Regions from separate parts of the Homo sapiens genome. Here regions 2 and 3 are each linked to region 1. The links come from fine-mapping of genetic effects on gene expression. A gene starts in region 1. Each other region holds a variant in brackets. All regions are shown on one strand. Distances are from middle to middle.

Evidence for each region. PIP is the estimated chance that this variant, and not a neighbour inherited with it, causes the effect. A credible set is the group of variants that fine-mapping cannot tell apart.
Region 2: its variant is the best candidate, but not a certain one, in a credible set for the expression of MTR in cerebellar hemisphere (GTEx, PIP 0.55).
Region 3: its variant is the best candidate, but not a certain one, in a credible set for the expression of MTR in whole blood (TOPMed, PIP 0.83).

What each region holds. Positions count from the first base shown.
Region 1 is chr1:236,791,874-236,799,514 of GRCh38, forward strand. MTR (5-methyltetrahydrofolate-homocysteine methyltransferase) reads left to right here and starts at 3,419. Exons shown (of 33, transcript NM_000254.3): 1 at 3,419-3,864. The coding sequence starts at 3,831. RefSeq lists enhancers at 3,445-3,734, 3,835-4,024.
Region 2 is chr1:236,846,717-236,854,357 of GRCh38, forward strand. MTR (5-methyltetrahydrofolate-homocysteine methyltransferase) reads left to right here. Exons shown (of 33, transcript NM_000254.3): 16 at 3,628-3,807; 17 at 5,805-5,921; 18 at 6,232-6,372. Among named protein-coding and RNA genes, the nearest start is that of MTR, 55 kb to the left of the region's middle. The variant CTGA/C (reference allele first, on the strand shown) is at 3,898.
Region 3 is chr1:236,854,901-236,862,541 of GRCh38, forward strand. It overlaps MTR (5-methyltetrahydrofolate-homocysteine methyltransferase), which reads left to right. Exons shown (of 33, transcript NM_000254.3): 19 at 4,933-5,022; 20 at 6,225-6,377; 21 at 7,336-7,443. Among named protein-coding and RNA genes, the nearest start is that of MTR, 63 kb to the left of the region's middle. The variant G/A (reference allele first, on the strand shown) is at 3,877.

The sequences.
Region 1 (7,641 bases):
TAGCAGGACACAAAGAGCCACCTAATGGGTTTGACACAACCACCAAGACCAGAGAATAATGCATAAAGCTGGAATGTCAATTTGCTACTGCTATACAGTAGGAGTTGGATATTTAGGTTCACTGATCTCCACTTCTATCTATGAAGACAAATCCACAGGGAAAGAAGTCCCAAATCACCAAGAGGTTGTTTGGACCCTAACCTCTAAACAATGGGTTTGTGTTGGATGAGTTTAATGAGAATGAGCTTAATGAGGGGGAAAAAAGCAGGCTAGCAGGCTATCACCAACTTAAAATAGCAGGTTCTCTCCTACAGAGATAGAGACCCTCGTTAGTCCCAGCCCATCCACAGATATAGTTGTATTAGTTTCCAAGGATTGCTTTAGAGTTTCCGAGGAAGTACAAAAACTGAGTGGCTTAAAACAACAGAAATTTATTACCTGACAGTTCTGGAAGCAAGAGGTCCCAAATTGAGGTGTAGGCAGAGTAATGCTTTTTCTGAAACCTACAAGGGAGAACCCTTTCTTGTCTCTTCTAGATTTGGATGTCTGCTGGCAATCCTTGGAGTTCCCTGGTTTGCAGGTGCTTCCCTCCAGTCTCCACCTTTGTTGGCAAGTGGCTCTTTTCTCCTCGTGTATCTCCCCTTCTCATAAGGACACCAGCTACGCTGGATGATGATCTCATAACTAAACTAACCTGCAACAAACCTATTTCCAAATAGGGTCATTAAGGTCATATTCTTTTTTTTTTTTTTTTTTTTTTTGAGTCTGAGTATCTCTCTGTTGCCCAGGCTGGAGTGTAGTGGCTCAATCTCCACTCACTGCAACCTTCACCCTGCCAGGTTCAAGCGATTCTCCCACCTCTGCCTCCAGTAGCTGGGATTACAGGCATGTGCCACCACACTCGGCTAATTTTTGTGTTTTTCTTTTTCTTTTCTTTTTTTCTTTCTTTTTTTTTGAGACGGAGTTTCACTCTTGTTGCCCAGGCTGGAGTGCAATGGCACAATCTCGGTTCACTGCAACCTCCCCCTCCCGGGTTCAAGTGATTCTCCTGCCTCGGCCTCTCGAATAGCTGGGATTACAGGCATGCACCACCACACCCGGCTAATTTTGTATTTTTAGTAGAGACGGCGTTTCTCCATGTTGGGCAGGCTGGTCTCGAACACCCGACCTCAGGTGATCCGCCCACCTCAGCCTCCCAAAGTGCTGGGATTACAGATGTGAGCCACCACGCCTGGTTAATTTTTGTATTTTTAGCAGAGATGGGGTTTCACCATATTGCCCAGGCTGGTCTCGAACTCCTGGCCTCAAGCGATCCACCAGTCTCGGCCTCCCAAAGTGCTGGGATTGCGGGTGTGAGCCACTGCACCCGGCCCAAATAGGGTCATATTCTGAAGCACTGGAAGTTAGGGCTTCAACATATCTTTGAGGGGGACACATTGCAACCCATACAGTATTCTTGGAACTGTAAATCGCGTTTTTGTACTAGAAATTCACTGCCCCTTTAGGCACTATGTATTCCTCTAATCTTATTTGTTACTCTTTTACGACTTTAAGAAATACAGAATTTGGTCAGTTTTAGCTGAGAGAGTAAACTTTGATGACTTGCATCAAACAGGGACTGGCACACAACTCCTGGAATTTCCAGTAAGAGAATGTGAATGGGGGACAGTTGCCGACTAGGTGCCTGAAAGATCATTTTTCAAGAAACACGTCAACAAACTTTGAGGGATACATGATAATTAAAAAACTAGCTTCAACCCGGGAGGCGGAGGTTGCAGTGAGCTGAGCCAAGATCGTGCCAGTGCGCTCCAGACTGTGCGACAGAGTGAGACTCCGTCTCAAACAAACAAACAACTAGCCCTTATAATCTTTTTTTTTTTTTTTTAGACAGGTGCATCTTTACACAGTTAAATTTCACTACTTCTTTTTTTGCAGATAAAAACTCAGGAGTTGAGAAATGAATAAACATAATAATAAATATGAGAAAACCATCATGATTTATCAAGCCTGGATAAATAATTTAATAAGTTCAGCATAGAAGACCTTGCTTTTTTTTCTTTCCTCCTTTTCTTCTTCTTTTTTTTTAACTTATTTATTTCAATAGGTTTTTGGGGAGCAGGTGGTGTTTGGTTACATGAATAAGTTCTTTAGTGGTGATTTGAGAGTTTGGTGCACCCATCACCTAGGCAGTGGACACTGCACCCAATGTGTAGTCGTTTATCCCTCACCTACTCTCACCCTAGCCCTTATAATCTTAAGATTTTTGGCTATTTAGGGCCATCTCATTCCTCCCTCCCTTCTTTGTTGCATTCTCTCTCACCTACTCCATTCCCCCCACCTTCCAAGTAAGACCATCTTTGGTAAGATGGTCTTGGTAAGAATGTGATACGCATTATAATAATTTTTCAAATCTTCAAAATTGAGGTATAATTACATACAATAAAATGAGAATGGCATGCAAATTTGTGCCTTTTTTAAAGCTTAGTAAATGTCATAATTTGGTTATAGTTTTTATTTTTCTGGATGCATTTGCTTTTCCTTACATCTACCATGCTCAGCCTTACAGAGATTTTTCTAGATGAATTTGCTTTTTCTCACATCTACCATGCTCGGCCTTACAGAGCTGCCCTTTATTTTAGAATTCCCTAAAGTGCTGTGTTGTACACAGGGAGCTTCTCCTGACTGGAACAACCTTACCTGGTACCACTCTTCCTTCAGGACCCAGATTCTTCTTTGAAACCTTTCCCTGGCCCCTTTGAATACTCTAGCTCTTTTAAAATGTATGTGGTTCTTTTTTCCCTGTTCAATTATTAATCTAACTAGGTTGTGAGTTCCTCCTCCAAGGACGTGAGGGTGCGATGTAGCTTGTCTGATTTTGCATTCCAAGTGTGTGCCCCAATGCCTGACACATAGTAGGTGCTCAATATATGTTTACTGTCAATAAGTTACAATTAACACCCCCATATGGTAATTCAGAGTTTTCATAGCGCGGTCAAACGATCTCATTTAACGCCTACTACAACCCTAAAAAATTCTAATTACTACCATCCTATCATTCTTGTTTGTAGAGTGTGGAGACTGAGAGGTTAACTGTCTTGCCCAGCGCAAGTCAACAGCAAAACGGAACTAAAATTTCAGGCTCGACACCACACAGCGTGTCGAGATCAGCACGAACTTGGCGCTGTGACTTTTCCTTAGAGGGGCCACTTAGGCTTACACTTCCGGATCCTGGGCACACAGAGACGCGAAAAGCTCCCGCGGGAAACTGGGGAGCGGGACTACATCTCCCAGAGAGCCCCGGGGCTAAACAGCAGGTGATTGGTTGATATTGACAGCCAATGCGGCTGCGAGGAGCTCGGGCAGACCAATCACAGGCCGGAAGGGGCGGGACCTCCCACGCCGAGGATAGATTGAGCGCAGAACTAACCGCGCTCTGAAAGGTTCTAAATGTCTGCGGGGCTCAGAGCCGGATGTCACGTCGTCCTCCTCTGCCGGTTTTCTCTTGGGTCCTTTTCCGTGCCGTCCCGCGACTCCGCCTCTGGCCGCGCGTGTCTGGCTGCTAGGCCGACACCAAGGACTGGCCGGGTACCCGGGAAGAAAGCACGTGCTCCAGCAGTTGCCGCGCCCAGCCCCGAGAGAGGCCCTAGGGCGCTGCGGGCTTTCGGGGTCCGCAGTCCCCCCGCGACGCGAGCCAACGGGAGGCGTCAAAAGACCCGGGCCTTGTGTGGCAGGCTCGCCTGGCGCTGGCTGGCGTGGCCCTTGGCCGTCGTCACCTGTGGAGAGCACGTCTTCTCTGCCGCGCCCTCTGCGCAAGGAGGAGACTCGACAACATGTCACCCGCGCTCCAAGACCTGTCGCAACCCGGTAACGCTGCGACCCCGTCTGCGTGGTTGGGTTGTGTTTCTTAACTCGTGCTGTGGCCTCCTAATCCCTGGGGCGATTCCCTTCTGCGGCGGGAGACGCCCGGCGGTGTTTCCCCGCGTGTGGGCGGCACCTTTAGAACTTAGCGCAGGAGCCCGGAGGGCTACGTGTTTTGCTCCACTCTTTGTCCGACCTTCACCTCTTTCTCCCCAGGCAAGCCATCAAAACCTGCAAAAAGCGTCCTCCCCTCGCCCCCGAAACACATTCTTAACGTCACAGTAACTAAACTTTCCAGTTCCACGCAGCATAAACCAGCTGGGCCCTCTGGAAGTTTTTTTTTTTGCATGGTGTGACGCTTATTCGTAAATATGTATTGCGCACCTACTGCGAAAGAAAGTTCAGGCGCGGAGAGACAGACGAGGAAACTCAGAGAACTATTTAAAACTACTACATGGAACTTTTTATTTTCTGCTTCTACGCACGCTGCTGCAAAACTGCAATATGCATAGACTCACTATGTTAAAATAGATGAGCAGACCCCACCTCCAGATACCGAAATGGGAGGTAGTAATTTCAAGCGATTCTGATGTTGGTGGCCCTGGGATCAACAGTGAGAAAAAGCTAGTTTAGCACGAGAACTGAACGTAATGTTAGCTTTATAACGAGCTCTAGATCTCTAAGGTCATGCCTGATTATAATTTGAGGACAAATACACCCGTAAAAACGGGTGAGGAGATGTAGAAACGAGAATTAGTGATAAGTACAAAACAGTAAATATCCTATCACATAGTGGGGATGTTTAGCTTCAGGAAGAGGGGGAATACTAAATTCGTAACGCACAAGGAAATTTATCAGAGGTTAACCGGTGACTCTCTTGATTCTTGGGTTCTGATAACGGGACTGATATAATTGTTCTTGAAACTAGTGGAACTGTGGCTGAGAAACACATCACTGCTGTTATTAAATAAGATATAAACCTCCCTATGAGAGGTTTATATGTTATTTAATATATTAAATAAGATGTAATGAGGTTACATCTTATTTATATTTAATATTTAATTAATAAATGTAAACCTCCCTATAAGAGATTTATATCTTATTGAATAAATGATCATAGGGAGATCATATTTATTTGGAAAACATCTTTTACTCATGATTTCTGGCCTCCCCCTTCCCATTTAATTTAAACAAGTAAAGTTATTTCCCTTTCATCTGAATTTAGGTGTCATTATCAGGAGCAAAATGCCACTGAAGACTTAAAATACTGTGAATAGTGAGTGATTTAAAAAAAAAAAATAAACTGAAAGGAAAATTGTTGAATGTTTGAATCTTGCCTAGTCCCCTCACCCCCAAGGCTGGCTTCTAGAGTTGAGCACTGAGTGGAGTTTAACCAAGTCTAGGGCCTCTGAAGTTCTGAATCAGGCCATTGTGCCTAGAAAAGACCTTAGATGTAGTCCAGCTTCTGTCTATGTGAGCAACTTTTATTGGGATTAGAATCAGGTTTTAACTTCCTAATAACCCTTAGTAATTTACTGGCGTACAATCTTAATGAAATTTTAATGGAGAGCTGGGAATTCCTGATTCTCAAGGTTGGGCCTTAAAACTAAATGTGACTTCAGACCATGGTTGTGTGCCCTGGGGAAGGAGGATGGTGGGCTAGCAAATACATCTTGGGAGAAAATTTTAACTACAGCTTCTAAAAGTTTCTTGGTTTCATCCTTGCTTAGGACTGTGAGTGTTATTTGGAACTCAATTGATGAGTGATTAATGAAGGAATGAATAATCCAGTGAATTGGTATCAATTGATGAGTGATTAATGAAGGAATGAATAATCCAGTGAATTGGTATCAGCCTAATTCTTCTCCGGCTTATTAAAATCAAAGGGGGAAATAATATATATTAAAAATGGAATACTGCACAAGCAAAGAGATGCCCCCAAAGAAGCTGGGCGCGGTGGCTCATATCTGTAATCCCAGCACTTTGGGAGGCCGAGGCGTGCGGGTCACCTGAGGTCAGGAGTTCGAGACCAGCCTGGCCAACATGGTGAAACCCCATCTGTACTAAAAATACAAAAATTAGCTGGGTTTATAGTGAGCGCCTATAACCCCAGCTACTCAGGAGGCTGAGGCAGGAGAATCGCTTGAACCCTGGAGGCTGAGGTTGCAGTGAGCCGAGATCATGCCACTGCACTCCATCCTGGGTGAGAGAGTGAGACTTAGTCTCCAAAAAAAAACAAAACAAAACAAAACAAAACCAAAAAAACAAAGTGTAGCAAGTCTGTGCAAACTAGAAATTAGAGATCCAAAAATGAAAGAGAGAAGTATCTTGCAAGTGACTTGTAGGGCAGTAGTAAGATTGTTTTTAATAAAGCAAAGAAAGAACAGTGCTGAGAAAGCCTTGGGATCATTTGATTATAATGCAGAAAATAAAAATGTGCTTTTGCTGTATGTGTTCCCCATTTAGCACAGTGGAAAGAGGGGTCCTAAGTAAGTCAGATCTATTTGGGGTCATTTTACCTTCAGAGCAGATGTGTTCTTGACACTGCAATTTATAACTTACATGCACATATTAGGAATTTATTTGTTTAGGCCTTCATCTTGTCATTCTTTAGGCTAGTTCTTAAAGGTGGTACTAGCTGGTCTACCCCCCTCCAAATCTGACTAGGGCTTTAACCACTTATACCTATGTTTATTCTTTGGAACACTTGCTGTGAATCAGAATATTGTTAGCTAGAAAATAAGATGTTAAGGGCACGGAAAAAAACCCCACAAAATATATTGGCTAAATCCACTCAAAACTGGAGAAAATACTGTGTGATCTCTTAGGCTCACTAGCCAAGGATGTTCCTTGGGACTCTCCTCTGCACTGCGGTTATTTACATATATACATTAAACATAAAAATATTTCTGAAATAGTGTTATAACTAGTCAGCTAAGTAAAGGAACTGCAAAACTATATTCTTATATTTACTGTGAAAGATAATCAGAAAGAATCTGCTTTATTTAGAACTTGACTAGTCAGTAGTTAAGTATACAGAATGTTCTAGACCTAATGAACTGAATACAGATAAATACAATTTTGTTGTTCTTCATGGAAGAGTGACATTTCAGTAGATCCCCACTCTGCCAGGGGAAGGAATTGTCAAGGTGACTTATTCTTTTGAGCAAGTTCTGATAGTAATTGGAAACTGGTGAATTAGAATGGTAATTAAAGCCCAGTGAAAAATGACCTCCTACTGGAAAAACTGGAGGAATACAGAAGGCTAAAAATAGTGAACACTTAATACCAACAGATTTTCTGAAGGAAGACTTCTTAGTTTCTCTAAATGGGAAATCTTACATTATCCTCTAAAGGAAAAATAAGCAAGTAGTTGAGGAAACTATGTTTTTTTTTTTCCCCCTTTTTCTTGAGACAGTCTCACTCTGTTGCCCAAGCTGAGGGCAGTGGCGTGATCACGGTTCACTGCAGCCTCGACTTCCCAGGCTCAAGCAGTTTTCTTGCCTCAGCCTTACTAGTAGCTGGGACTACAGGTGCATACTACCAGGCTTGGCTAATTTTTGTTTTTTTTTTTTGTAGAGATGAGGCCACTGTGTTGCCCAGGCTGTTTTCGAACTCGTGGACTCAGTGATCCACCTACTTTGGTCTCCCAAAGTGTTGGGATTACAAGTGTGAACCACCACACCCAGCCCAAGTAATGGATTTTTAAGGGCCTCAGTTGCATAGGAGTTTTTTATTCAGGCTGCAAAATTCCTGTGTTTTATTATATATTCCTTTTTATCT
Region 2 (7,641 bases), 55 kb after region 1:
TTGTAATTGGCTTATTTTTTCTTTGGTAAATTTTTTCCCTTTGGTATTGATTTTTAGATTTTTTCCCTTGGAAACTTCCTTTTCTTCAGTGTTTCCCTTCCTACTTGTCAGTGTCTCTCTTGAAAGGCACAAACATCCGTTTCCATCACTTCTGTTTTTTTTGTTTTTGTTTTTGTTTTTGTTTTTTTGAGATCAAGTCTCACTCTGTCGTGCAGGCTGAAGTGCGGTGGCGTGATCTCAGCTCACTGCAACCTCCGCTTCCCGGGTTCAAGCAATTCTCCTGACTCAGCCTCCCAAGTAGCTGGGACTACAGGCCTTTGCCACCACAACTGGCTAATTTTTGTATTTTTAGTAGAGATGGGTTTTCACCATGTTGGCCAGGCTGTTCTCGAACTCCTGACCTCAGGTGATCCACCTGCCTCAGCCTCCCAAAGTGCTGGGATTACAGATGTGAGCCATTGTACTGGGCCGGGCCACTTCTTTTTTTAATTACAGCCCCAGGATGGGCCTCTGCTTCCTCCAGGGTTCTCTCGCCCATCTTCAACTACTTCAGTTCGATTTTAAAACTTTAACTCACCTCTGAAGTTAGCCCTGTTCGATCTCTGCTCCTTGTCAGACTACATTAAAGAATCTAGATGTCTTCTACACATTGTCCTTCTCTTCCTCACAGTGTCTGCCTTGATGACCAAATCAAAAATTGTTTTATTGCATTACTGCCTGAGTGTGTGATATTTTAGCAGAATCTGAGCCATGAGCTTCTTAAGTAAAGCCTTCTACTCACTGGTCACAGTCTAGCTTCTCTATGGCTTAAGAGTAAACCTGTTTGATAAAGCTATAAATGGCATTTATTCCTTCCTTCTTGCTGCTTAGAATCTCACTGAGTTTTTCTTCTACTCCAACTGAAGAAGGTGCCACATCTCACCTGTTGGTGGTTCTCACCTGGCTTTATATTAGCATCACTAAGGGGCTTTTACAAAACACTTGCTGAGACCCCATCTCCAGATTCTGATTTAACTGGTTCAGGGTGAGGTGTTACTATTATAAAAAACAAGCAAACAGAAATCCCTCCAGGGTATTGTAATGTGCAACCAGAGTTGAAAGCCCTTCCTGATGGAGTAAAGCTGCCATTCCGTTGTTTTACTGAACTTCTATTCTGGATCTCTGAAATCCACCAGCACGATTGAGGCTTTATTAGTGTGTCTGTCCCACAGCCCTGGTGAGGAGTAAGACAGAAGCTTGGTGAACCTTACGTGATATGAGATATGACCTGCTCCTGACAAAGGCCTGTACACCAATGCCGTGTTCACTCTGAGAGTCATTGTTTAATCAAGTGACAGAGGTTGAGTATCTGTTAATGTGGCACAGATACTGTGCTAGACGCCATGAGAACAATTTGACAAGGGCTTCATCCTTATGGAGGTTAGAGTTGATGACTCTGTTTTGGTTCTAGAAATGAATTCCTGTCCTGTGAGGATGCACCTGCTTGTCCCACAAGCAGGGCTGTCTTTGGTATACAGCTGGGCCCTACACCCTACTCTCCTGTGGGTAACATACTGTTCACTTCAACCTGCCCTGCTTGGCCAGATAATATTCATGGCTCAGATGAGGAATGACCAGGACCTTGACTTCTTCATCTACCAACCAGACTAGGTTACTCAGTAATACTAGTAGCATTGGTCGCCCCTGTGCCTTCTCTCTTAGTGAGCTTAGATGAGCCATGAACCTAGAGCCTAGAACTCTATTGGGCTGTCTGGTGAAGGGTAGACTTTAAAAGTTCAAGCCTAAAGGCAGCTGCAAATGGGCTGTTTCTGACCAGTTTTTTCTGACATACATCTCAGTCTCAACCTTAACCTTTTCACTCTAACTGAAGGCAGAGGAAGTAAGCATTGAGAAAATTCCATTAAGGAAGACGAAAGCTCGCCACCTTCCCTAAAGCCTGGGTGCAGTGAGGCCACAGAGACCACTTCCTGTCTCCCTTTCCCTGGGCCATTTTGTCTGCTAAGTCCTGGAGGCACTTCCCTCCCAAGTAGAGGTGAAGTCTCACCCCACCAGCTGCAGAGAGCGATTAAAGAGACCAAAGAAAACAGTTGAAAAAGAATACCAAAGTAGTAAGTGATCAAAAGGCTAGATCTAAGAGAGAGTTCTTTTCATAATTCCCCTACTCCTCATTTCTGTTGTCTAGGGCCTCACTAGATGCACTTGACCTATGTCCGTGTCCCTACCCCCTCATCTCCACAGAAGTCTGCAATATAGATTGCAGTAGGGTTGGCCATTTTTCAAGAACATTTTTCGCGTTCATTGAGAATTGACCTTCAGAATTGTGACTTATTTTTTCTTATCTCTGGAGTGATAGCAAGTAATCATTTTTTAAGAGTAGATTTGATTTTTCATACAACCAGAAATAATTCAGGATGTAATTTGGTGAATACCCTGTGTTGAGGTTGTAAATTTGATCTGAAGACAGTTTCCATGACAAAGTTCAGAAATACTTTGAGTAAAAGCAGCATTCATACATAATGTTGAGCACCTACTTTGACAGGCACTGCTCAGGGCACTGGGGATAAAGCAAGACTGGCATTCTATCTAGGGGAGAGGAGTTTACCAATTAACAAGTAATAAAACAACGAAAAATACTAAAGATGTTGCCAAAATAATACAATTTCTGGAAAGAAATACTCCGAAGAAGAATGGAGGAGGTGGGGAAGGGTGGAAGTGGCTGGTTTAGAGAGGGTGATTTAAGGTAGGCTCTGAAAAGGGGGCACTTGGGCAGAAGCCTTAGTTCTGTGAAGCACAAAGCCATGTCATGGTATGTTCTGGTAGTGGCAGCAATAAATGAAAGTTGCTGAGGGAGGAACAAGCTTGACGGGTTTCAAAAACACCAAAGGAGCAATGTAGGAGGTGCGGAGTAGAGGAGAGGGCAAATGGTAGGAGATGAGATTGGAGATGGAGGCTGAGATTCTGAGGCTTTTGGGAAGCAGCTGGGGGATGAGCCTTGCCGGAGTTAGTGTTTTGCCTTTTAGGGACATTATTTTGAAGGTAAAGACTAATTTGTATTTATGACTTAAGACACATGTTAGGCCAGTGTTAAAATGGGTGAAGGTGAGGAATAAATGCATATCCTTGAATATGCTTAGAATGTTTTTGCAAGAAGATCTGAGAAAGCAATGGCAGTGTTTCCTGGGTGATAGGTTGTGACACTGCTGTCAGGTCAAGAGAGGAAGGGGCACTTACATGTTAATCTCTTCTTTAGTAGTATTTGATTTTTTATCATATGCATGTATTTTTAGAAGCTTTTTCATAATATACCATATGTGTGTATATGTTTAAGGTTTGATTTTTTGCAGAAAGAGTATAGCTGCTGTGTTTGTGAAAACACAAAGAGATCTTTAAACCAGTCTCTCCTCTGAGATAATTTGATAAGTGATCGGAAGCTGCTTGGCATTTAGATTTCTGTGAAATCCAAGCATTGACACTTGAGTGTTTTCAGTGAGTGAAATGTGCTCTAATGTATAACACTTAATATTTTAATATTAATATTTTATTAAAATAAAATAACAGGTATTTAATATTAATATTTTAATAGATAATTTTTCTATTTCAAACTACATCTTTTGCTCTTTTCCCTAGGCAACAGAAACAGACACAAAAATCAGAGTGTGCACCCGGGCCTACCATCTGCTTGTGAAAAAACTGGGCTTTAATCCAAATGACATTATTTTTGACCCTAATATCCTAACCATTGGGACTGGAATGGAGGAACACAACTTGTATGCCATTAATTTTATCCATGCAACAAAAGTCATTAAAGTAAGTGTAGGCATGTTCTCTCCCAAGTCATGGCTCAAATTTGTCCCATGGGTCTAATGAATGGTTAGAACTAACTTATATATTTATTGG[CTGA/C]TGAAATGTTAACATTCTTAGTTAGTAAATTGTTTTTCTGAAATGTAGGAGACCTTATTTTTTTTCTTTAGTAGAGTTTTAACTTGTGTAACAAACAGACTGGAGAACATAACAGAGCCTGATGAACTCGCTTGAACCCAGGAGGGTGGAGGTTGCATTGAGCTGGGATCACGCCAGTGCGCTCTAGCCTGGGCGACAGAGTGAGGCCCTGCCTTGAACAAAATGATGCAAAACAAAAAAACCACAGAACCTGATAAATAATTAATTATGAAGCATATAAGAGCCTTCACTTAGGTCCCAAAATAGAGCATAGCTAGCGCCCCCGTCTGTCTCTCCTTTTCCAGTTACACCTCATTCTCAATTTTATAAAGTAGCTATTGTCCTGAGTTTTATGACGCTACTCTGTTGCTTTTCTTCATAAATTTATTGCTTATATATGTAGATTTGATTTGCATCATCTATGGATTTTATATTTGCAAATTCATGTACTTACTGAAATTTATTTGTGACCCCAAAATCAATACTCAACGTCACTTCTGCAGTTGTTCAGACTTACCCATATGCAGAGTGGTGGAAAATTTGAGTGGCCCAACCCATATTATTCCCAAAGAGGGCAAACATGGCAGTGACCTACCTTCTTATTTCAGCTCTCATCCTGTACACAGATGTCCTTTTTGCAGTCTAATGCCATGTTTTTCACACTTTTATGCGTTTTGTTGGTGAGGTCACTTTTTAAAATGGCCCCATACTAGTGCTGTCTAGTGTTCTAAGCACAAGAAGGCTGTGATGTTCCTTAGGGAGGAAATATGTGTGTTAGATAAGCTTTGTTCAGACATGAATTATAGTGCCATTGGCTGTGAATTCAGTCTTAATGAATCAACAGTAAATATTAGATACAGCATCTTAACATACATGCACAAAACAAGGTTATGTATTGATTGGTTGACAAAAATGTCATCAGAGGCTCATAGGAACCTAGCCCTGTATTTCTCCTAGGAGCAATGCTCTGGTATTCCCTAATTCAGTGTTTGCAGTGACTTTAAAGAACATAACTACCACAAAATAGTAAGAATTGACTGAATATCTGAATGATATAGTTTGGTTTTGCCTGCTTTTGAGCCTAATAAAAATAGAATCGTAATATTTTTATGTTTTTTTCTTACTCCATACTAAAGATTTATCTGTGTGGCTGTAGCTGTTTGTTCATTTTTATTAATGTATAATATTCTATGGTATAACTATACCACAATTAACTGTTCTATTGTTGATGGACATCTAGTTTTTTTCCAGCTTTTGGACATTATGAACAATGCAGCTCTGAGTATTCTTATATATGTATCTTAGACATGCATGCCTGAACTTCTCTGTAGCATAGACCCAGAAGTGGTTGGCTCATAGTAGTAGATAATGACAAACTGTCTCCCTAGATTCTTGAGCCAATAATAGTGAAAGTTCCTGTTATTCCACAAGCCTGATGATGCTTGATACTGTCATCGGTATGGTTGGAACTTCAATTTCCTTTTGTCCTTTTATAGTCGGTCAAGTTCATAGTGAACTAGGGAGTCTGTTCATTTAGGCTATGGAAGCCTTCTAGTAATTTGTACTTTCAGTGAATAAGGAATTCCTCTTTGTCTTTCTGCGTGTGTGTGTGTGTGTGTGTACGCGCGTGTTCTCCTTAGGGAGATTGGAGTCTAGTAGGAAAAACTACTTACGAAGCAGCGCCTTTGTAATACTGTAATACGGCAAGCTTTGGTCTATGTCTAGTAACAAGAAGCTCTGAATTACTTTGAACTTCGGATGCTTTTTGTTTTTTTTTCTTTCCACTCCTATATAAAGCTTAAGAGATGTGATTGCTGTTTTTGGCAAAAAAGGGGAATCTTTTCATATTTTAAAATTTTTGCCAGGAAACATTACCTGGAGCCAGAATAAGTGGAGGTCTTTCCAACTTGTCCTTCTCCTTCCGAGGAATGGAAGCCATTCGAGAAGCAATGCATGGGGTTTTCCTTTACCATGCAATCAAGGTATGGTAGAAGAACTCTTAGCCCTGCGGAAACCAGTTTTTAGTTGGGGCAGGGGTTTTCAAAGTGTGGCATGCAGGCTAAGTCCGGCCTGCTGCCAGTTTCTGTAAATAAGATTTTATTGGGATAGAGCCACACCTATTCATTTGTATCTTGTCTGTGGCTGCTTTTATGCTGTAACTACAAAGTTGAGTAGCTGTGACAGAGGCTATGGCCTAAAATATTTCTCTCTGGCCCTTTACAGAGAAAAGTTTGCTGATCGCTGACTTAAGGTATCACTGTAAATTCTCATTTTTATTTGTATTGCCCTTAGTCTGGCATGGACATGGGGATAGTGAATGCTGGAAACCTCCCTGTGTATGATGATATCCATAAGGAACTTCTGCAGCTCTGTGAAGATCTCATCTGGAATAAAGACCCTGAGGCCACTGAGAAGCTCTTACGTTATGCCCAGGTAGAGAGACAAGTGTTCTAATAGATGGATTTTTCCTATCTTTGAATGTATTACTCACCTACAGTTAGTAGACCTTCATGGTGGAATAGAAGCAAATATCGAATCATATATTTGGATCACTGAAGATTTCTACAGAGAGTTGCAGAGATGGTGGTGTAGCTAGGGCAAGGAAGGGTAAACAGACCATGCCTAGGGTGCTTCCGTATTCTGAACTTAGGTTTCTTTAAATTTATTGTAAAATGTAAAATTAATTTTTCTTGTACCAAGTAACATATTAGTTCTAGAAAATTTACAAAATTCTGGTAAGCAAAGGAAGAAAATAAAAATCACTTGTAATCCTACCACCCAAAGTTAAACACTTGAGATTTTGTTATAACCTTTAAGTGATGGGAGTTTTTATTTCTTTTTGCAAAATGAATATGCATGCATAGGTACATATACATACATTTTTTACAAAAATAGAACTATACTCTAGATGCTTTTATGGTAATATTTTTTTCTTAGCAGTGTACTGGGAACATATTTCCATTTTACTTGATATTTTTCTACCTCATTATTTAAAATAGCTGTTCTGGATTTTCTTGTGTGGCTATGTTAGTGTTACATGGTCCCCACTGTTCCATGTTTTGGTTTGTATACCTGTTTATGTTAGGATCTGGTCCATCTGTGGCAAAGTTCTGCAGTTCAAGGCTTAGGTCTGTGCACATTTGATGTGTAAAAAATGAGTATAATTATAGCTAATTCAAACACCAGCTTGTTTCTCATTTATATGTTGGGCGCAGTCCTAGGCACATGAAGTATCTATCGTAGATGGTTCTTCTTAGAATTCAGTTTAAGGAAAGTTGAGATCTTTACCTCAAAAGAACTTGCATTTTAATCTGTTTAAGAGAATGATGGCAAAGGAAGATATTTTTCCCACAAAGCATGTTGAGAAAGTGGTAGGATGCTTTTGTGTCTCTTGCCAACTTTGTTAATGTTTTCCATGTTAGAATCTGAATTTAGCTCTGATAGAACTGCCAACTTTGCCTCTTCCACAGAAGAGTAATAAAATGCTCTGGAAGAAGGATAGGACACTATGAGATTAACCACATCCTTGTTTTATCAGCCTTACTGGTAGTAAGACTTAGATTTCTGAAATTGCTTATGGAAGCCTTAGGCTCAACAAAGCTGAAAGGAGTTCAGACACTGTGCCAACGCTCACACGACCCTCCTCTCAGTTCCTTAAAAACATTTCCAGTTTCTCATGTGGACCCAGGACAGAATGTTTCA
Region 3 (7,641 bases), 63 kb after region 1:
ATTGCAGGAGTTTAACAATTCATCATAGAAGAATTTCCTCATTCTTAATGTAACCACGAGGGCTTCTTATAAGCCACTGACCTCTCTGTCAGGGAGACTGTCTGCCTTCAAGGTGACTTCCGTTGCCATTGAGGGAATTAATAACCAAAACAGGTATCCTCTAATAACTCTTGGGAGTCGCCAGCTCTGTAGCAATTCCTTAGGATGCGCTGAGTGAAATGGAGCATGAAGAGCAGGAATATTATGAGGCAAATAAGAGTCAAGGGATTTTTTATCTTTTATAAGAGAATGATCTCTTTCGGTTATTGCAAATGAAGAAGTCTGCACCCAGATTCCTGTCTGATATATTATTGAAACTAGTGGGAAGAGTATAGCCTCTGATCTTCCAAGGCTCTCTAATCTCACATTTGGGGAGGAATGGGATTTTTTTGAAAAACAATTTTCCTAATTTAGTTCAGACTGACCTGTGGTAAGTAAATTATTTTTGATAATAAAAATTTCCAGATACCATGTAATTTACATGGAGGATCTTTATTAAATGGTACCCTAATGGAGGCCAGGCCTCCTATGGAGTGGAAGGATTGGTGCTCTGGATAGGATGGCTGTGGAATGACCCGGGAGCTTGAGAATATTCTTGATACTTTCTGGGAAAGTTTTCTGTTCTTTGATTTGGCCTTGATCCCTTCCTTCACCATTTGAGCTCACATTCTTCCTTGGCTTTCTCTGCAGCAGTTTACTCCCTTTGATAACCTACACAACCGTGAGGCCCCTGTGAGGCAGAAGCAACTCTAGAGTGGGAAGAAGTAGTTTTTCTCATTAGCTTTGTACACGTACAGATACAAGGAGTAGCCAGATGGACATGACAATTGCTTGGTCAGTTTGCTTGGTAGCTTTCTATGTAAGCTTCCACAGTGTGCCTGGGTCTGGTCTTCCTTAGTATGTGAAAACTGTGTAGCACCTTGTTTGTGTATCATGGAGAACTCCCTATTGAATAACTACATGAATAGTGAGATGGGCCTCAGCATGCCATTGTGTATTTCTGAAATAACTGCTTTTAACTGTACTGTTTCATTTTAAGTATTGCTTTCATGAGTCAAATTCATCAGGTTTGGAACATAGCTATCAGGTGGGATAGTTTTTAGACATCACAACCTCCAACACTTCAGTGAATTCTTTACTGCTGTTTGTAGCCTCTTTTGCCTCTGTCCATAATCATATATTTTTTGCTCCCTTCCCACCCCATAAGTCTGGTACATTGTGGTATTTTTCTGTGAACACACCAGTTCCTTTTTTCAAGAGTGTTTGGAACACACCGCCCTGTTTTTACACAGCAAAACTCCATCCCCCAGGTAGGAGTTGTCTGATTGTGTGGCTAATAGAACAAATGGTATTTACAGGTATCAAGTGATGGGACTGTGAACATCAGAGGGACTTTTTCTTTTTTTTTACTATCTCGTTCAGGTTTTTCAACATATGAGAGTCCTTGTATTATTATTCCAGTTACCACTTTGGCCCTAAATCTTGGAGTTCTCCCCAATTCCTTCCTCCTCTCCTTCTTCTTTCTTCTTTCTTCTTTCTTTTTTTCTTTCTTCTTTCTTCTTGTTCTTCTTCTTTCTTTTTTTTTCTTCTTCTATTATTATTATTTTTATACTTTAAGTTCTGGGATACACATGCAGAATGTGCAGGTTTGTTACACAGGTATACACATGCTATGGTGGTTTGCTGCACCATCACCCCATCATCTATATTAGGTATTTCTCCTAATGCTATCCCTTCCCTAGCTTCCCAACCCCCCGACAGGCCCTGGTATGTGATGTTCCCCTCCCTGTGTCCATGTGTTCTCATTGTTCAACTCCCACTTATGAGTGAGAACATGCAGTGTTTCGTTTTCTGTTCCTGTGTTAGTTTGTTGAGTGTGATGGTTTCCAGCTTCATCCATGTCCCTGCAAAGGACATGAACTCATCCTTTTTTATGGCTTCATAGTATTCCATGGTGTATATGTGCCACATTTTCTTTATCCAGTCTATCATTGATGGGTATTTGGGTTGGTTTCAAGTCTTTGCTACTGTGAACAGTGCCGCAATAAACATACGTGTATGTATCTTTATAGTAGAATGATTTATAATCCTTTGGGTATATACCCAGTAATGGGGATTACTGGGTCAAATGGTATTTCTGGTTCTAGATCCTTGAGGAATCGCTGCACTGCCTTCCACAATGGTAGAACTAATTTACACTCCCATCAGCAGTGTAAAAGCATTCCTATTTCTCCACATCCTCTCCAGCATCTGTTGTTTCCTGACTTTTTATCGCCATTCTAACTGGCGTGATATGGTATCTCATTGTGCTTTTGATTTGCATTTCTCCCTCCTCTCCTTCTTAGTTATTGTCTATTAATACCTTTATATTTGTCCTTTCCTTTCCTCCTGTTACCACTACTGAGTCCAGGCCTCCATCAAGGACTATTAAAATATTCTCCCCATTTTGTGATTCCCTTAAAAATGTGACTTTGAATGTTAATCTGCAGCTTTAGAACTTTGAATAATGTCTCCCCCTTCTGCCCATGCAATTGCCTGGAAGGTCAAATTTAAACTCCACCGCATGGGTTTTTGGCCCTCTGTGTCTTGGCCTCTACCACCCTGGACAAACATTACTCCAGCAAAATCAGTCTTTGTGTAGCATTAATTCATCCAGCTAATATTTACTAAAATGTCGCTTTGTGCCATTCATTTGACTGAACTTAGAGGATCTAACTAGTAAGAGAGATGTACCCCTACCCTCTGAGAGCCTACAGCTCAGTGATACATGCAGAAATGTATAGAGGTGATTGTCACCCAGCGCAGCAAGTGCTGTGAGAGGGGAAGTGCAGGACGCTAGGAGAAGCCTGAGGGAGATTCTGACCCCAAACTAGAGATGGTCAGGGAAAGCTTCCCAGGGGAAGTGATAGGTCAGGTGAGACTTGAGAGAAATAAAGGAGGTGGCCAGGCCAAGGTTTGGGGGTAGAGTGCAGTGCTGGTGGTCCCTGCCAGGGGAGAGATATTTGCATGTAGCCAGAGTCTGGCATGGTCATAGGTACTGCATAAATGTATGTCAGATGAACAAATGCGAAGGCCTGGTGGTAAAGAGTTGATGGGGAGGGGAGCATAAGGAACAGAAGTGTTCTGGATGGCTGAAGCTTGTCGGGAATGGCAGAAGAGAAAGCCAGATCAGGTGTACTAGTCCATTCTCATGCTGCTGATAAAGACATACCCGAGACTGGGTAATTTATGAAGAAAAGGAGGTTTAATGGACTCACGGTTCCACGTGGCTGGGGAGGTCTCACAATCATAATGGAAGGTGAAAAGCACGTCTTACATGACAGCAGATAAGAGAGGGAACTTGTGCAGGGAAACCCCTTTATAAAACCATTAGATCTTGTGAGACTTACTCACTATCACAAGAACAGCACAGGAAAGACCCGTCTCCATGATTCAGTTACCTCCCACTGGGTCCCTCCCACGACGTGTGGGAATTGTGGGAGCTACAATTCAAGATGAGATTTGGGTGGGGTCACAGCCAAACCATCTCATCAGGGCATTGGATGGCATGGTAAGGAATCAGTACCATGTCGTGAAAGCAATAGGAAACTTACACAGAGATTTTTTTCACAGGGAGCAGTTGGATCAGATTTGCATTTTGGAAGCATCCTTTTGGCTACAGTGTGGAAGATGAATCAGAGACCAGAATGATTCTGGGCTGTGGAGACTACTTAGTTCTTGGGCTGTGAAAATGGAAGCAGGGTGGAGAGAAAAAGTTTTGAGGTGTAATCATTAGGATGAGGTGATTGATTGAATTTGAGTAGTGAATGGAGATTCAAAGGTGATACTTAGGTTTCC[G/A]GTTTGGCAGCTGGTACCTCCAGTTGAGGTGGAGAAAACAATAAAGTAATGCAATTTATCAGGTGTGCCATGATCATTGCGCTTTTGTTCCTTTGCTGAATCTGCCCCTTCTCATCATTCAGCTTCTTTGAAACTTTTCTTTGCCACCTTAGCTTACGATAACCATTCCTTCCTCAAAATTCCTATGTACTTAGTCTGTATTATGTACTCATTCAGCCCTTGACATATACTCCCTTTCTTTCTTTACATATTTTCTACCTCTCTTATGACATGGCTGTCTTACTCTGTTTTCTTTGGCTCTAACGGAATACCAAAGACTGGATAATTTATAAAGAAGTTTATTTAGCTCACAATTCTGGCAGCTGGAAAATCCAAGAGTATGGCCTTGGCCCCTGGTGAGGGCCTTCTTGCTGTGTCATAACATGGCAGAGGGCATCTCATGTCAAGAGGGCAAGAGCAAGAGAGCCAGAGAGATAGCAAACCTGCTTCCATGGTAGCAACATTAATCCAGCCGTCATAAATTCGTTAATCCATTCATGGGGGCAGAGGGATTAGGTTTCCAACACAACTTTTGGAGGACACCTTCAAACCATAACAATGGCAGAGTCCTTGAGAGCATAGTCTGTGTCGTACACCTCCTAGTGTGCCCACCTTTGATGTCTGACTTAGCTTCATTATGGCCTCCCTGCATCTGTTTTTGGGTACTGGTGATCCTTGTTGAGAGCTTTGAAGGCTCATTGGGTTTGGAGTATAGCTTCTCTTACTGTCCTGGAAATTTTGTGTTGAGTTGTTATTTTTAGAAAAGAGGGAAAGGAAAGAATGGAATTTTACTCTGTCTCTACACTAACAGTTCAAACCCTAAAAGATTTCTCATTTTTCCCTCTCCTTCCCTCAAACATTCATTGAGATCTTATTTTATGCTGGACAGTCTACTAGGGGCTGGAAAAGTAAAAGAAGAATAAGACACAGGTTTTTTTGTTTGTTTGTTTGTTTTGCCATCAAACAGTTTGGTTAGTGATGAGTTGTATCCATTTCTTGGTTTCAATTTCAATTCAGACTCAAGGCACAGGAGGGAAGAAAGTCATTCAGACTGATGAGTGGAGAAATGGCCCTGTCGAAGAACGCCTTGAGTATGCCCTTGTGAAGGTAAGTTACAGGGGCCTGAACTGGAGGGCTGGAGGCTCATCATGGCTGACTGATCCTGTTGTGGGCGGTGTGACAGTAGCTGGAGAAGGAGATGCCTAGACCACTGATTCTCAACCTGGGGAGGTCCCTCTTGCTGTCCCCCAGCTGCCCCCCCCCCCCCCCCCCCCCACCATAGCACATTTGACAGTGTTCAGAGACATTTTTGATTGTCGTAACTGTGCCTGGGAGGTATTACTGGCATCCTATGGCCAGGGGTGCTGCTAAACATCCTGCAGTGCCCAGGACAGCCCCAAACCACAAAGAATATTCCTTCCCAAGTGTTAGTAGCGCCGAGGCTGCGAATCCTGTCCTGGACCAAGTTGCTGGTCAGTTGGTCAGCAAGTCAGTTTCATAGTTGGAATTTTAGGCTTTAAGCAAGATCAGTAATCTCTTGGCTTCAGTTTCCTCATGTGTGAGTCTGGAGAATCTCAGAGTTTTGTTTTGTTTTGTTTTTTTTTGGCTCTGGAGTTTAACATTTAACTCTTTCACCTTTTGAGATTCACATATTTCAGTTTGTGGAGCTAGTTGGCCAATCCAAGGATCATTGAACTGGGGACCTTGGAGGAGTGGGGCTTGTCATTGAAGGGCGGATAAGTCAATGGAGGCTTCATGGATTTGAACTTCATTTAAGGGCCTCATCCAGTGTCATTTCTCCCCAGCCCTACAGCATTACAGTGAGAAAACTTACTGATTTCTCCACAGGCATTTATTAATGTATAATCTGGTAAAACACGAAGATACAAAATGGATTTTATGCATTTGAACTTATTAGTCCTTCTCTGTTAGCACATTTTACTGAGGTATATTTTAAAGCATTTTTTAATTGGCATATAAAATTGTATGTATTTACTGCATACAACATTCTGTTTTGGAAGTGTATGAGGTATTTACTTTGTTTGTATCAATAAAGCCAGCTAAGCACTTTATCTCAATCCTCAAAATAAACATATGAGATACTATTGTAATATTCTAATTGAGGAAACTGAGGCTTATTGAATTGCCTAAATTAGTGATAGGAAGCCAGATTGAGTCCATGCACTCTGCTTCTGGAACCTGTGCTGTTAGGCATTTTCATGATGGCTCTGTGGAGGTAAGGCAGTTTTTTAGGTGATTTTTTTTTTCTTTCTTTCTTTTTCTTTTTTTTTTTTTTTTGTCTTTTTTAGGGCATTGAAAAACATATTATTGAGGATACTGAGGAAGCCAGGTTAAACCAAAAAAAATATCCCCGACCTCTCAATATAATTGAAGGACCCCTGATGAATGGAATGAAAATTGTTGGTGATCTTTTTGGAGCTGGAAAAATGTTTCTACCTCAGGTTAGCAAAATATGGGGAGAAATTTTCACAGTTGCATCTTTTCTTTGTCATTTAATAAATGGCGATTTGGGATATATTTCTCAGGTTTTAATTTGGACAAGAGTTCAATGGTATTGGCTAGTCATTCCTTCTCTAAATATGTTTAGGAGTCATGTCTGCAAGAATCCGTCTTCAGAGTGGTGTGGATGTTGGAAATCCGAAAATTCTTAGCATCATAATCTATCATAATCCTTATGTTCTAATTTTTGTATCACCTCTTACCCCCAGTGCCTATCTCTCCCCTCCAAAAGTAAAGTAAAACCCAAGATAAATGTAGAGTTACTAACATTAAGACTTGATTTGACCAGGCACTGTTCATCTGTAAGGATGCATATTTTGAGACAAATGTTACTGTTTTAAATGACGGTACATTAAGTGGTTTGTTTAAAGTAAAACCAGAACTCTTACTTTGATTTACAGCAGCTGCTAACCACATCAGTTAACACATACTTGTTGAGCATGTAGGTTAGTGGCTGTGCGGCATTTGAGAAACTAAAAGGCCTTCATCTTGCCTTAATGTAAGACTGGATTTTAAGTGAGTTTTAAAGCTGGGGATTGAGAAGAGAAGGCTGGGAATGAGCTCATGGTGGAGAAGCTTTGGTCCTGAAGGATACATAGAACTCTTGGATAAAAGATAGAGGGCCTCCTAGACAGAGGAAAAAAAAACAAGCCAAAGTTCAGAAGACAGAAATTGCAACATTTGATTTCCAGCCTTGTTTTCCTTCTGCTGTACCTTATTATTCACTGGCTTTCCCTCTGGGGAGCTTATCCTTTGTTCTGCCTACTGTCAAAAGACTCCAGTGTAGCTGTCCTGAAGTCAAAGCATGCATTCCTAATGTGTGCCCAAATTTCACAAGTGGCCATCAGCAGTTGTTCCTGTGGTTTGGGAAAGATACCTGATCTATGCTTTTTTTCTCAGGTTATAAAGTCAGCCCGGGTTATGAAGAAGGCTGTTGGCCACCTTATCCCTTTCATGGAAAAAGAAAGAGAAGAAACCAGAGTGCTTAACGGCACAGTAGAAGAAGAGGCAAGTCATTTTGTTCAGGCCTATGGGCCTTTAGTGGGTTGACCTGGAAGACTTGAGGTGGTGGTAGGGGCCTAAGCAGTCAGGGTTGGCTGTGTTCGTTATTGAGGATAAAATAGAGAAATGATCCCACATCTCTCCCTTTTTTAACCGAGTATCAGAATACTCTGGGACTTTCTTTTGAATGTAGCTTTATAACAT